Linked DNA regions of Homo sapiens. The protein of the gene in region 2 purifies or fractionates together with the protein of the main gene of each other region. This does not show direct contact. Each region holds a gene or a part of one and is shown on either strand. Other genes may lie near its edges.

What was found.
Region 1: the proteins of RC3H2 (region 2) and EIF4ENIF1 purify together in Homo sapiens (affinity purification with mass spectrometry, with the first as the bait; one large-scale study listed by BioGRID). This does not show direct contact.
Region 3: the proteins of RC3H2 (region 2) and DHX30 purify together in Homo sapiens (affinity purification with mass spectrometry, with the first as the bait; 2 studies listed by BioGRID). This does not show direct contact.

The regions. Positions count from the first base shown.
Region 1 is NC_000022.11:31,487,680-31,491,427, reverse strand, and holds the start of EIF4ENIF1 (eukaryotic translation initiation factor 4E transporter), read left to right. Parts: upstream 1-1,585; 5' UTR 1,586-1,734; intron 1,735-1,871; exon of another isoform or gene 1,872-2,184; coding exon of another isoform or gene 2,185-2,280; intron 2,281-2,682; coding exon of another isoform or gene 2,683-2,709; coding exon 2,710-2,805; intron 2,806-3,748. UniProt on the Homo sapiens protein: EIF4E-binding protein that regulates translation and stability of mRNAs in processing bodies (P-bodies). Plays a key role in P-bodies to coordinate the storage of translationally inactive mRNAs in the cytoplasm and prevent their degradation.
Region 2 is NC_000009.12:122,874,342-122,877,989, forward strand, and holds part of RC3H2 (roquin-2), read right to left. Parts: intron 3,243-3,648; coding exon 3,130-3,242; intron 1,028-3,129; coding exon of another isoform or gene 832-1,027; exon of another isoform or gene 1-831. UniProt on the Homo sapiens protein: Post-transcriptional repressor of mRNAs containing a conserved stem loop motif, called constitutive decay element (CDE), which is often located in the 3'-UTR, as in HMGXB3, ICOS, IER3, NFKBID, NFKBIZ, PPP1R10, TNF and in many more mRNAs.
Region 3 is NC_000003.12:47,844,620-47,848,267, forward strand, and holds part of DHX30 (ATP-dependent RNA helicase DHX30), read left to right. Parts: intron 1-1,080; coding exon 1,081-1,233; intron 1,234-1,545; coding exon 1,546-2,382; intron 2,383-2,653; coding exon 2,654-2,729; intron 2,730-2,812; coding exon 2,813-2,917; intron 2,918-3,161; coding exon 3,162-3,337; intron 3,338-3,560; coding exon 3,561-3,648.

The DNA.
Region 1 (3,748 bases), on a different chromosome or scaffold from region 2:
AGGATTTAGCAGCTTCAAAGAACGGGCCTTCTCCACTACTCCAGGGAGTCTCCAAGACACTAAAGGGGATTAGACCTGTTTCCCACAGCTTTAGGAAGAATTTGGATTCCAAAAACAGCTTGATTGTTAAAATAATAACATCTGTATTATCACCTGCAACGTGTCTCTGTATAGGCTTAAAAAGGCTCAGCAGCTTTATGGGTTATATATGGTTTTTTACCCACCTTATCCTGTTTAATCTTAACTGCCCCATGAGCAGGTTATATCATCTTCGCAATTTCACAGGTAAAACTAAGAATCAATAGACTAACTCTCCATAGCTTGTAGGAGGTGGCAGAGATGAGAATGCAAACTCAGGCCTGATGTGCAAGTGTTTCCCTCTGCCTCTTGCCTGTAAAAAAACAGTTTGTAAGAAACACACTTTATTCAGTAATACAAACGAAAAGTTTTCTGTTGCCAAGATTCACAAGAAGGGAGCTGAGTTAGTGGTCACTCACTGCCCAACACCCTAATTTCACAAGTGAAGTGAAGTTCCAACAAAGTAGGCCTCTTGGAAGAAATGTAGACGTTGCTGTCCTTTAACCAGGAAAATTGCGTTCTCGGGACTTCACGCCTATGTATCGCTTCACACCAACGCTGCGCAGTACCACAGGGCAGAAATGGGTGCTTGTGGTATTCCAGCACATAGGACTTCCTCCCCAGGATGCAGTTACCCACACTGCTCACATATTTGCATTTCTGTGGCCCCCTGTCAGCCTGAGTCTGCACTACGTGGTAAGCACTTGACATTCGCCGTCTCATTTCCCCAACTCCACTCGCACTTCCCCTTTCTGTGCAGGCTAAGGACAGATTCAGGTTACCGGAGGGAAACAACATTTCAATGAATTTGTTAGTCGCCTTTATCGCTATCAAAGCCAATCGTGACAAGTTTGTCTTTTAATGCAGCAACCAGTACTCGCGCATAAGCCTCATAGATTTACAGAGGCCATTTTAGAAACACGACCGAAACTTAGGTTAAGTCAGCTTTGCCTAAGATCACGCCACTCGCAAAACAGCTGAGGTTCGAACCCGCACTGGGAAGGCTCGGAAGACCCCAATCTCCTATCTCAAATTCCCACTGCCGAAGCCCCACGGTTCTCTGCCTATGCGAACCATGCAAATACAGCGGTCGTCGCGCCACAGGCCGTGCTAGCCGCCAGCCCAGCCCCATCTAGCCACCGCCTCCGGGAGAGTGGCGTGCCGCGAGTCGCGGGTCCCAAGTGCCGTCCGCTCTGCCCTGCAGCGCGCGTGGGAACGCGGCGGCGGTGGCCTCTGGGCTGCCCACGGCGACCGCCTGCGCGCACGGGAGCGGGTTTCCGCTATCCCCACCGTGGCCTCCTCCTCGCCGCCACCACCTTCCCACCCCCCGGCCCGCGCAGGGGCTGGCGTCCGGGAAGCGCGCGGCGATGCTTCTTTTTCGCCCGGCACCGCTGCAGCCACCTCACATCCGGGCGCGCGGCGGGGAAGGCGGCGCCGGGGCCAGGGTGCGTGGAGGGAGTTATTAAGGGGGAGGGGGCCGAAGAGGAGGGGCGGAGGGCCGGGCTGCAGTTACGGCGGCTGAAGAGAGACAGCCCAAGCCGGTCGGGGTGGGGGCGCGAGAGCGAAGGCTGCGGGGAGCGGCGCTGGGACCGGTGCGGGCAGCGGGGAGGGGAGCGGCGGCCGAGGCAAAGGGCCGCCGAGCGGCGGAGGCACCGAGTAAGGGTCGGCGGCGGTGGCGGCTGGGTCCGGGGCACCGCGCGCCCGGTGCTCCCGGGTGTAGAAGGGGCGCGGGCGCATTGCTCCCGGGGTCGCGTGCGTGAGCGCGGGCGCCGGGGCGCCCGCAGGGGGTGGGCAGGGGCGCGAGGCCCGCAAGGCGGCCGGCGGGTAGCCGGCGGGCTGGCTGGCGGGGACCGAGCCGCCGGGCCGGGGAGGACGGCTGCGGGCCTGCGCTAGCTCCAGCTTGAAGCGCCCGGGCCGGGAGATTCGGCCTCCCTCCTCCCTGCGGCCGGCCGCCCCTCAGTGAGTACGGTCTCCGCCCTTCCTCCGAAGGAGGCCGCTGGGCCCGGGCCTGCGTGAGGGGCTGCGGGTTGGGGTCGCGGCCCGGGGAAGCCAAGTTTCGGAGCTGAAGCCGGTGCTCGCCCTTTCCTTGCCATCGGCGCCCCTGACATGGCCACAGGTGCGGCTGGCCTGGCGAGGGGCGCTCGGGCCCCGTCCCCAGTCCCTGATCGCCGGATAACAAGGGGCAGCTGGCGCCGTCCATTGGCAAGTGACAGGCACTTTCCAACAGACTTCGCGGGTTCCCAGCCTAACCAGTCTTCTACCTGCCCCCACTCCGGGAAACTTCCCCACCAGTCTTGAAAGATCCCCATGGGTGGCAGCTACTAATCTTGGTTTCTCTTGTGTTAAAGCTGCTTAAAGGTTATATACCTTGAATTGGGCACCTTCTACTTTTTACCATGTTGATGCTTAGGATACTAGGAAAGAGAACTGAGTACCAATGATTCTATCTCCAAGTTCTAATTTATAGCATAATTTTGGGGTGGGGACTTGTTTTTAACACTAGCTGTTTTGAGAGATTAAAAAGTTTCAGCTTCTGAAGAAACAGCCAAGATTTCTGAAAACTTACTGTTCTCGGTGACAATTTTGTGCCGATTTATCTTCCAGGTGCAGAGCATTGTAGACCAAGGAGCCATGGATAGGAGAAGTATGGGTGAAACAGAAAGTGGAGATGCTTTCCTTGACCTGAAGAAGCCTCCTGCCTCCAAATGCCCCCATCGCTATACAAAAGTAAGGTTTGCCACTAATGAAATAGTGTTTCTTTTTAGGTGGCGAAGTTAGTAACATTGTATAACTATTTCATTCCTATTAAGTGGTAATCTCATTCTGACTCACTACATGGACTAAATATTAACTAAATTTAGTAGTGCATTACTTTGAACATTTTTCTGCAAGTGTAGATACCCAGCGTTTAAGCTGGAATTTGCTTTGAGAGGCTTTTAGGTGAAGGGAATGTAGGCTTAGATTTTTTTAAAATTGCGGATCAGTATACTTTGTAAGTTCTGTAACAGCTATGTAATTGGTACGTTTATTGATTTACATACTGTACTGTGAGGATTAAAGCCCTAGGATGCGTTACAAAGTTAGTGTCCTCTGTATTGATGTTTCCTTAAGAGGCAGACTCCCCATAGGAATGCTCTTGAGTGTGCTTTTCATGGGTAACTGGCTTTTCAATCCTGTTTTTTTATTTTCTATTACAAATTGGATATGGACTCAAAAAAGTAAGGCTTCAGTCATATTTCCCCTAGCTAAAAACTGGAGATGCTTAAACTGCTTGTCCAGATAACTGCTTTTGGGAGAGAGAGGAAGTCATATTTATTAAAGATCTTGCATCAGTACATGTCTTGTTGGCTACTGAATGTTTTTGAAGAGGTTGACAGGACTCAAATTGTAAATTCATTTCTGGGTCCCTGAAATGTGTCAGGCTGGATCCCATAAAACTTGCTCAACAGTGTTGAAGCAGTTGGGACCACTGATGACAAGAAGGGTTATATCCTAGTTGGGCACACATCCATATATTTCCTTAGTATGGATTTTTCTTTTTTTTTTTTTTTTTTTTGCACCCGACAGGGCGTCACTTTGTCGCCGAGGCTGGAATGCAGTGGTGCAATCATGGCTCACTGCAGCCTGGACCTCCCGGGCTCAAGCCATCCTCCCATCTCAGTCTCCTGAG
Region 2 (3,648 bases):
AAATAGTGGAAATGGAAAAGACAGATTGAGATATAGGAAGATACTGGATAAAAAGCCACTGAAGCAGTAAAACCAACTGGATTACCATGTGAAACACTAAAAATGTGACCAATAATTTTGCCATTATTATTATTTTTGAATGAGTGATATTTTATATATTTATTATTTTATTATTTTTATTTATTTATATTTTTGAGACAGAGTCTTGCTCTGCTGCCCGGGTTGGAATACAGTGGTATAATCTCAGTTCACGGCAGACCTGACCTCCCGAGTTCAAGCAATCCTCCCACCTCAGCCTCCTGAGTAGCTAAGATGACAGGCGTATGCCACTATGCTCAGCCAATTTTGTTTATTTTTTTGTAGAGGTGAGGTCTCACTATGTTGCCCAGGCTGGTCTCAAACTCCTGGACTCAAGGTATCCTCCTGCCTTTGCCTCCCAAACTGCTGGGAATACAGGCATGAGCCACTACACCTAGTTTGGCTATTATTATTTTTACTGCTACTATTACAAGTCTGGCAAAATATAATAAAGTTCTGAACTAGGTACTGCAGATGAAGAATGTGAAGTCTGTTTGAAGGTATGAGAAAGAAGAAAATGGATTTTCAGCCTGGGCACTAATTGAGGGTGGAATGGCAATGAAACCACAGTTTCTTCTCTGACTTTTTTAGTCGAACTTTCTCAAAAGCTCCCCTTTTAGCTAAAAAGCTCTATTTCAGGTATGGACAAGCTGAATGTATTTCCTGGAGTCTCCCAAATTATCTTGATGTGAAATTCTGTATATAGAACTAGTTCGATTGGGTACAAACAGCATCTTTTTTCCTTAGGACTCCTTAATCCTCTTCTCTAGGCACTTCAAGTGGGGAAAAAAACTGAGAAGAGAAGCATGTTTCTGCTCTTTTCACTGCACACACACTTATCTTCTCTCTATCACAATGCTGCTGCTTGTAGAGCTCATTATGTACAGTGCCCAAGCTAGCCACTGAGGAAAGGAGACAACAATGAAGATATAGTCCACGGGGGTTACACTTATGTAAGATAGACAAACATTTAATAAACAGATCATGGGCCATAGTTTCTGTAAAGGGTTTTTATAAATAAAGTTTACAGCCATGCCCAATTTATGCATTGTCTGTGGCTGTTTTTTTGCTACAGTGGCACTGCTGAGTGGTTGTAACAGATTCTGTGGCCCACAAAGCCAAAAATGTTTGCTAGCTGGACTTCATAAAGAAGTTTGTCAAGCTCTAAAACAGGCCACTAATTAATTTTATGTGATAAGTGTTTGAAAGAGGAAGCTGGTTAGTATGAAGTGTCAGGGGAATTACCCTGAAAAAGCGAAGGATGAGCTAGACAAAGGAAAGGTCTCAAAGGCAAGGCTAGGAGTAACAGCATTATGTAAAAGACCTGAGGTGGGAAAGAGCACAGTGCATACCACAAACTGAGAGAAGGTCAGTGTGGCTTGAGTACAATTAGTGTTGTGTAATGAGATCAGAAAGGCAGACACAGATTAGATGATGCAGGGTCTTAGAGGCCACAACATAGATTTTATTTCTTAATCTACAGGACAATGAGAGGCTATCAAAGGCTTAGGTGAAGAAGGGTGGTATGAGTAAATCTGTGCTTTTAAAATATTTCTGTTTTAAGGGAAATAATGGGAGAAGGGGTGGACAGCGAGAGATTTAAGACTAGTGAGAAGGCAACAAGGGATCGAGAAAAGGAGATGACAGCTTGGATCACAAGGATGGAAAGAAGAATAAAGAACTGAGAAATATATAGGAAGATGAATTGGCAGAACTTTTTGACTGATTAAGCAGAAAAAGCTAAGGAAGGACAGCTGACAAATATGATTATTATAACACAGCATATATAACAGGCTGGATGGCTAAACTGGGTACACGAGGTGAGTACAATGGAAGGCAGGAGGAGGAGGTATGGGAGAAAATTAGCTCAGTTTGTTTAAAGTATCTAAAAACAAAATGAATATGCCCACAAAGAGTTGATAGACAGGGCAGGTGTGGTGGCTCACGTCTGTAATCCCAGTACTTTGGGAGGCCAAGGCAGGCAGATCGCTTGAGGTCAGGAGTTTGAGACCCGCCTGGTGAACATGGTGAAACCCTGTCTCTACTAAAAATACAAAAATTGGCCAGGCATGGTGGTGGGCGCCTGTGGTTCCAGCTACTCGGGAGGCTGAGGCAGGAGTATCGTTTGAACAGGGGAGGCAGAGGTTGCAGTGAGCCAAGATCATGCCACTGCACTCCACCCTGGGCGACAGAGCAAGACTCCACCTCAAAAAAAAAAAAAAAGTTGATACACTGGCCAGCAGAAAGTAGAAAAGCTGGGATCAATTTTTTGGTGAGGTCTCAAAAATGAAAGTCTTAGTTAAAAAACAAAACAACAAAAATTGGATAATAGTATTAAACCTTACATACATTAACTTTTAGGTCTCGGGTAAAGGGACATAGAAAAAGGGGTTAACCATAGGAGAAGAGAAAGAATACACAGGGAAAAAGAATGTTAAAAAGACCAAAAGCCGTAAAAAGGATATATATCTGCTTTACCATTTTGCCTGAGACTTTGCTGCTAGGTTTAACTGAATCTGAGCAAATAAGACTGCAAGTATTTTCATTCTGCACAGGTGCTCAGTATAAATATGGATTCCAGCTATAAAATGGTCTCAAAATATGACCACTGAGTAAAGTTCTAAATCACTTATGTAAATCTTGTACCCAGATCTTATATGTTTTGTTGTGAGGCAGAGTCTTGCTGTGTCCCTCAGGCTGGAGTGCAGTGGTGTGAACACACTCACTGCAGCCTTGACCTATGGGGTTCAAGCAATCCTTCCACTTCAGTCTTTTGAGCAGCTGGGACCACAACTGTGGGCCACACAGCTAATTTTTAAATTTTTTGTAGAGACGGGGGTCTCCTTATCTTGCCCAGGCTGGTCTCAAACTCCTGAGCACAAGCAATCCTCCTGCCTCAGCCCCGCAAACTGCTGGGACTACAGGCATGAGCTATGGTGCCCAGCCCTTAACTTGCATTTTTGAAAGTCATCACAAACTTCAGGACTGTATATAACATTCCCATAAAAATCAAAAATTAAACCCATATGAAACAGAATTCTCAACACTTACTTTTCAAGCTCTTCCTGAGAATGGGCAAATGTACAATTTGTTCCTCGTGGACAACCCCCTTGCTGTCGCAAATCTCGGCACATGCTAGTCTTGTATTTGCTGTTTGGCTGAGGCTACAAAAATGGGAACACATTCAATGAGTGGCAAGGTGAAGATTCCATTTGTTATTCACTCTAGGAAGTTCAGAACTTTATAATTACACCTTTAATTCTTTTTCACATTAGACAAGTAATTCTTGTGCTGAAACAACTAATATTCCATTGTTTCCTGTTGTGAGTTATGTGACATAACCCTGAATTGGCACTTCAGATATTCCTTCTGAAGATTATTCGAAACTGGTTCAAATGTTATGTCCATTTATTCATTAGTTAACAGAATGCCCAGAAAAAGAAAATATTTTTTCATCAATTTATTGCTGTCTTAAAATTCTGCTACCAAAATCAAACAATTTTAAAAAGCATTAAAAAAAAACCAAAAGCTTTGTCTACTTAAACTTTCTCAGAAAAGGTAGAATACAAT
Region 3 (3,648 bases), on a different chromosome or scaffold from region 2:
GTTGGCCCCTGTTGGGGGAAGACTTCTTTAAGGAGGGAGTGTTTGATCTGGGCTCCGAAGGGTGAGCAGAGTCCAGCCATTAGAGGTGACAGGAACACAAGACTAGTTTTACCCATGTGCGTGAGGTATTGGAATGCTATGTTTTATCTCTGGTGAGGTGGCTTTAGGTATGTAGGGAGGTAAGACACAGTGTTTTCCTTCCAGTGGCTTGTTTGATCAAGTTGCATTATAATCGACATTTACAGGAAATTCCACGTGCATCTGTATATGATGGGGTCACAGATGGGTCGGGTGCCATGTAGGGATTGGGAGGCGGGATGGAAGGATTAGGGGAGGAAGGCTTTGATGAGGCAGCAAAGGAAGAGGGAGTCTGTGGGGTGCGTTCTAGCATCGAGGGCCTGGCCTGGCTGGTCTGAGGGTACATGTTGGGAATTCACAGAGGTGACAGTGGCCTATTGTGGTGTTGGGGGGGCTGTAGCCACACAGTGAGTGGTTTCTCCTCAGGGCCTTCTCCAGACGTAGGGCTGTTCTGCTGTGACACATCAGGTTTAGCTTTTCTTGAATTAACTTTATTATTATTTTCTTTGAGACAGAGTCTCGCTCTGTCGCCCAGGCTGGAGTGCACCGTCATGATCTCGGCTCACTGCAACCTGTGTCTCCAGGGTTCAGGCGATTCTCGTGCCTCAGCCTCCCTAGTAGCTGGGACTATAGGTGCCGGCCCCCCACCTGGCTAATTTTTGTATTTTTAGTAGAGATGGGGTTTCACCATGTTAGCCAGGCTGGTCTCGAACCCCTGACCTCAGGTGATTTGCCTGCCTCGGCCTCCCAAAGTGCTGGGATTACAGGCGTGAGCCACCGCGCCCGGCCTGAATTAACTTTAGTTCATTTTTTAAAACGTTTATTTTGGTAAGTTAACATTTTCCTAGTTCATAATTTCTCCCTCCATCACCATGTCAGCCAAAATCCAAAATCTCTTAGAGATTACTTGGCACAACTTATGCGTTGGAGCTCCTGAGCTTGTCTGGGCTGGTTTTTGGGGAGCCCCAGAGCATAGACTGAGTCTTGCATGTCCCCCTGCAGAGCCTGGGCCTGGTGGACAGGAACAACGAACCGCTTACACACGCCATGTATAACCTGGCCTCTTTGCGTGAGCTGGGTGAGACCCAGCGCCGACCATGCACCATCCAGGTGCCCGAGCCCATCCTCCGCAAGATAGAGACCTTCCTGAACCATGTAAGAGGCCCTGCATCCCTCACCACCCCTGCTCCCTGTAGTCTGCCTCCATCTCTCCAGACTGAAGGCCTCCACCTGCGACAGGCAGTAGTACCTCCCCATTCTCTTCACTGAGTTTGGGGCCTGGGATCCCCCTGGCCTGAACAGCCCAGTCTTGCCCACAAGGATCCCGGGGCAGTCATGGACTAAATTAATCCTCTGCCCAGCGGGTTGGGCCACAACATCTGACCCAGGCGAATCCTGCAGAGTGGCTGGTTGTGTGTGAATGAGGAATTTCTTTTTCATTGTTTTGCTTGCCTCCCTGCCCTCCAGTACCCTGTGGAGAGTTCATGGATCGCCCCAGAACTCCGGCTGCAGAGTGATGACATCTTGCCCTTGGGCAAGGACTCAGGGCCTCTGAGTGACCCTATCACAGGCAAGCCCTATGTGCCCCTGTTGGAAGCAGAGGAGGTACGTCTCAGCCAGAGTCTGCTAGAACTGTGGCGGCGGCGAGGGCCGGTCTGGCAGGAGGCCCCCCAGCTACCTGTGGACCCACATCGGGACACCATCCTCAACGCCATTGAGCAGCACCCGGTGGTGGTCATCTCTGGGGACACGGGCTGTGGGAAGACCACGCGCATCCCCCAGCTGTTGCTGGAGCGCTATGTGACCGAGGGCCGAGGTGCCCGCTGCAATGTTATCATCACCCAACCTCGCCGCATCTCTGCTGTGTCTGTGGCACAGCGGGTCAGCCACGAACTGGGCCCCTCCCTGCGCCGGAATGTGGGCTTCCAGGTGCGGTTGGAAAGTAAGCCCCCATCCCGAGGCGGGGCCCTGCTCTTCTGCACTGTGGGTATCCTGCTGCGTAAGCTGCAGAGCAACCCCAGCCTGGAGGGCGTGAGCCACGTCATCGTGGATGAGGTGCATGAGCGGGACGTGAACACAGACTTTCTGCTGATCCTGCTCAAGGGCCTGCAGCGGCTCAACCCGGCCCTGCGGCTGGTGCTCATGAGTGCCACAGGGGACAATGAGCGCTTCTCCCGATACTTTGGTGGCTGCCCCGTCATCAAGGTGCCTGGCTTCATGTACCCAGTCAAGGAGCACTACCTAGAGGACATCCTGGCCAAGTTGGGCAAGCACCAGTACCTGCACCGGCACCGGCACCATGAGGTGAGGGACACCCCCATCCCACCCAAGGCTCCTGGCCTTTCCTCCGTGGATGCCCCTCCTCCCTGGCCCTGGGGCTTGGTGCCTGGGGCAAGTTACCCTCCCCAGTCCTCGGTTTCCTTGATAGAAACTGGGGACTAACCCTGCCTGCGTGGCACACGTGAGGATTGGAGTTGATGTCAAGCGGCTCCGTCTCACTGAGTCAGGTGGCTGTGTCCTTGGCATGACCCCTTACCCCGGGGCTGTGACTGTGGCCTCTCTTCCCCCACCCCAGTCTGAGGATGAATGCGCACTCGATTTGGACCTTGTGACTGATCTGGTTCTGCACATCGATGCTCGCGGGGAACCAGGTGGGTGCCTCCCCATCTGTCCCATGCTAGCCCTGGCCACGTTTGCAGCAACAGCTGGCTCATGCCCCAGGGCTCCTTTACAGGTGGGATCCTGTGCTTCCTGCCTGGGTGGCAGGAGATCAAAGGAGTGCAGCAGCGCCTCCAGGAGGCCCTGGGCATGCACGAGAGCAAGTACCTCATCCTGCCAGGTGAGAGCCCCGGCGGAGGGACCAGGGACCTTTGGAAACCAGCCTGACCTCTGTCCTAGGGACTGACCCAACTGGGACTCCAGGGGCCCCGGTTTCTGACCAAGCTGTGGCACTTTTCACTGGGCATAGTGTTTATCTGCGCCTGTTTCATCAAAATGGGGTCAAAATCCTTGCCCTGCCCACATTCCAGGGGGGAATTCTGGTGGAAGCAGTGCCCATAACTGGTGTGTGTCTTGCCCACCAGTGCACTCCAACATCCCCATGATGGATCAGAAGGCCATATTCCAGCAGCCTCCAGTTGGGGTGCGCAAGATTGTCTTGGCCACCAACATTGCTGAGACTTCCATCACAATCAATGACATCGTGCATGTGGTGGACAGTGGGCTGCACAAGGAAGAACGCTATGACCTGAAGACCAAGGTGGCACCTACCTCCTGGGCCCGGCCAACCACTGGGGGAGGGACTCCGTTTTGAGGTGGTCCCCAGCCCAGATCTACCTTAGACCTGCTTTGTGTGTCTTCAGAAGGCCGCGCTTGTGGGGTCTCAGTGTTCCTGATGTAGGGGGCTGGTGAGGGTTACTCAGGGAGTGGGGAAGCACTGAGGAAGTGGCATTTGTGTGCTGCTTACTTGCCACCTCCTCCAGGTGTCCTGCCTGGAGACAGTGTGGGTATCAAGAGCCAATGTGATCCAGCGCCGGGGCCGGGCGGGCCGCTGCCAGTCCGGCTTTGCCT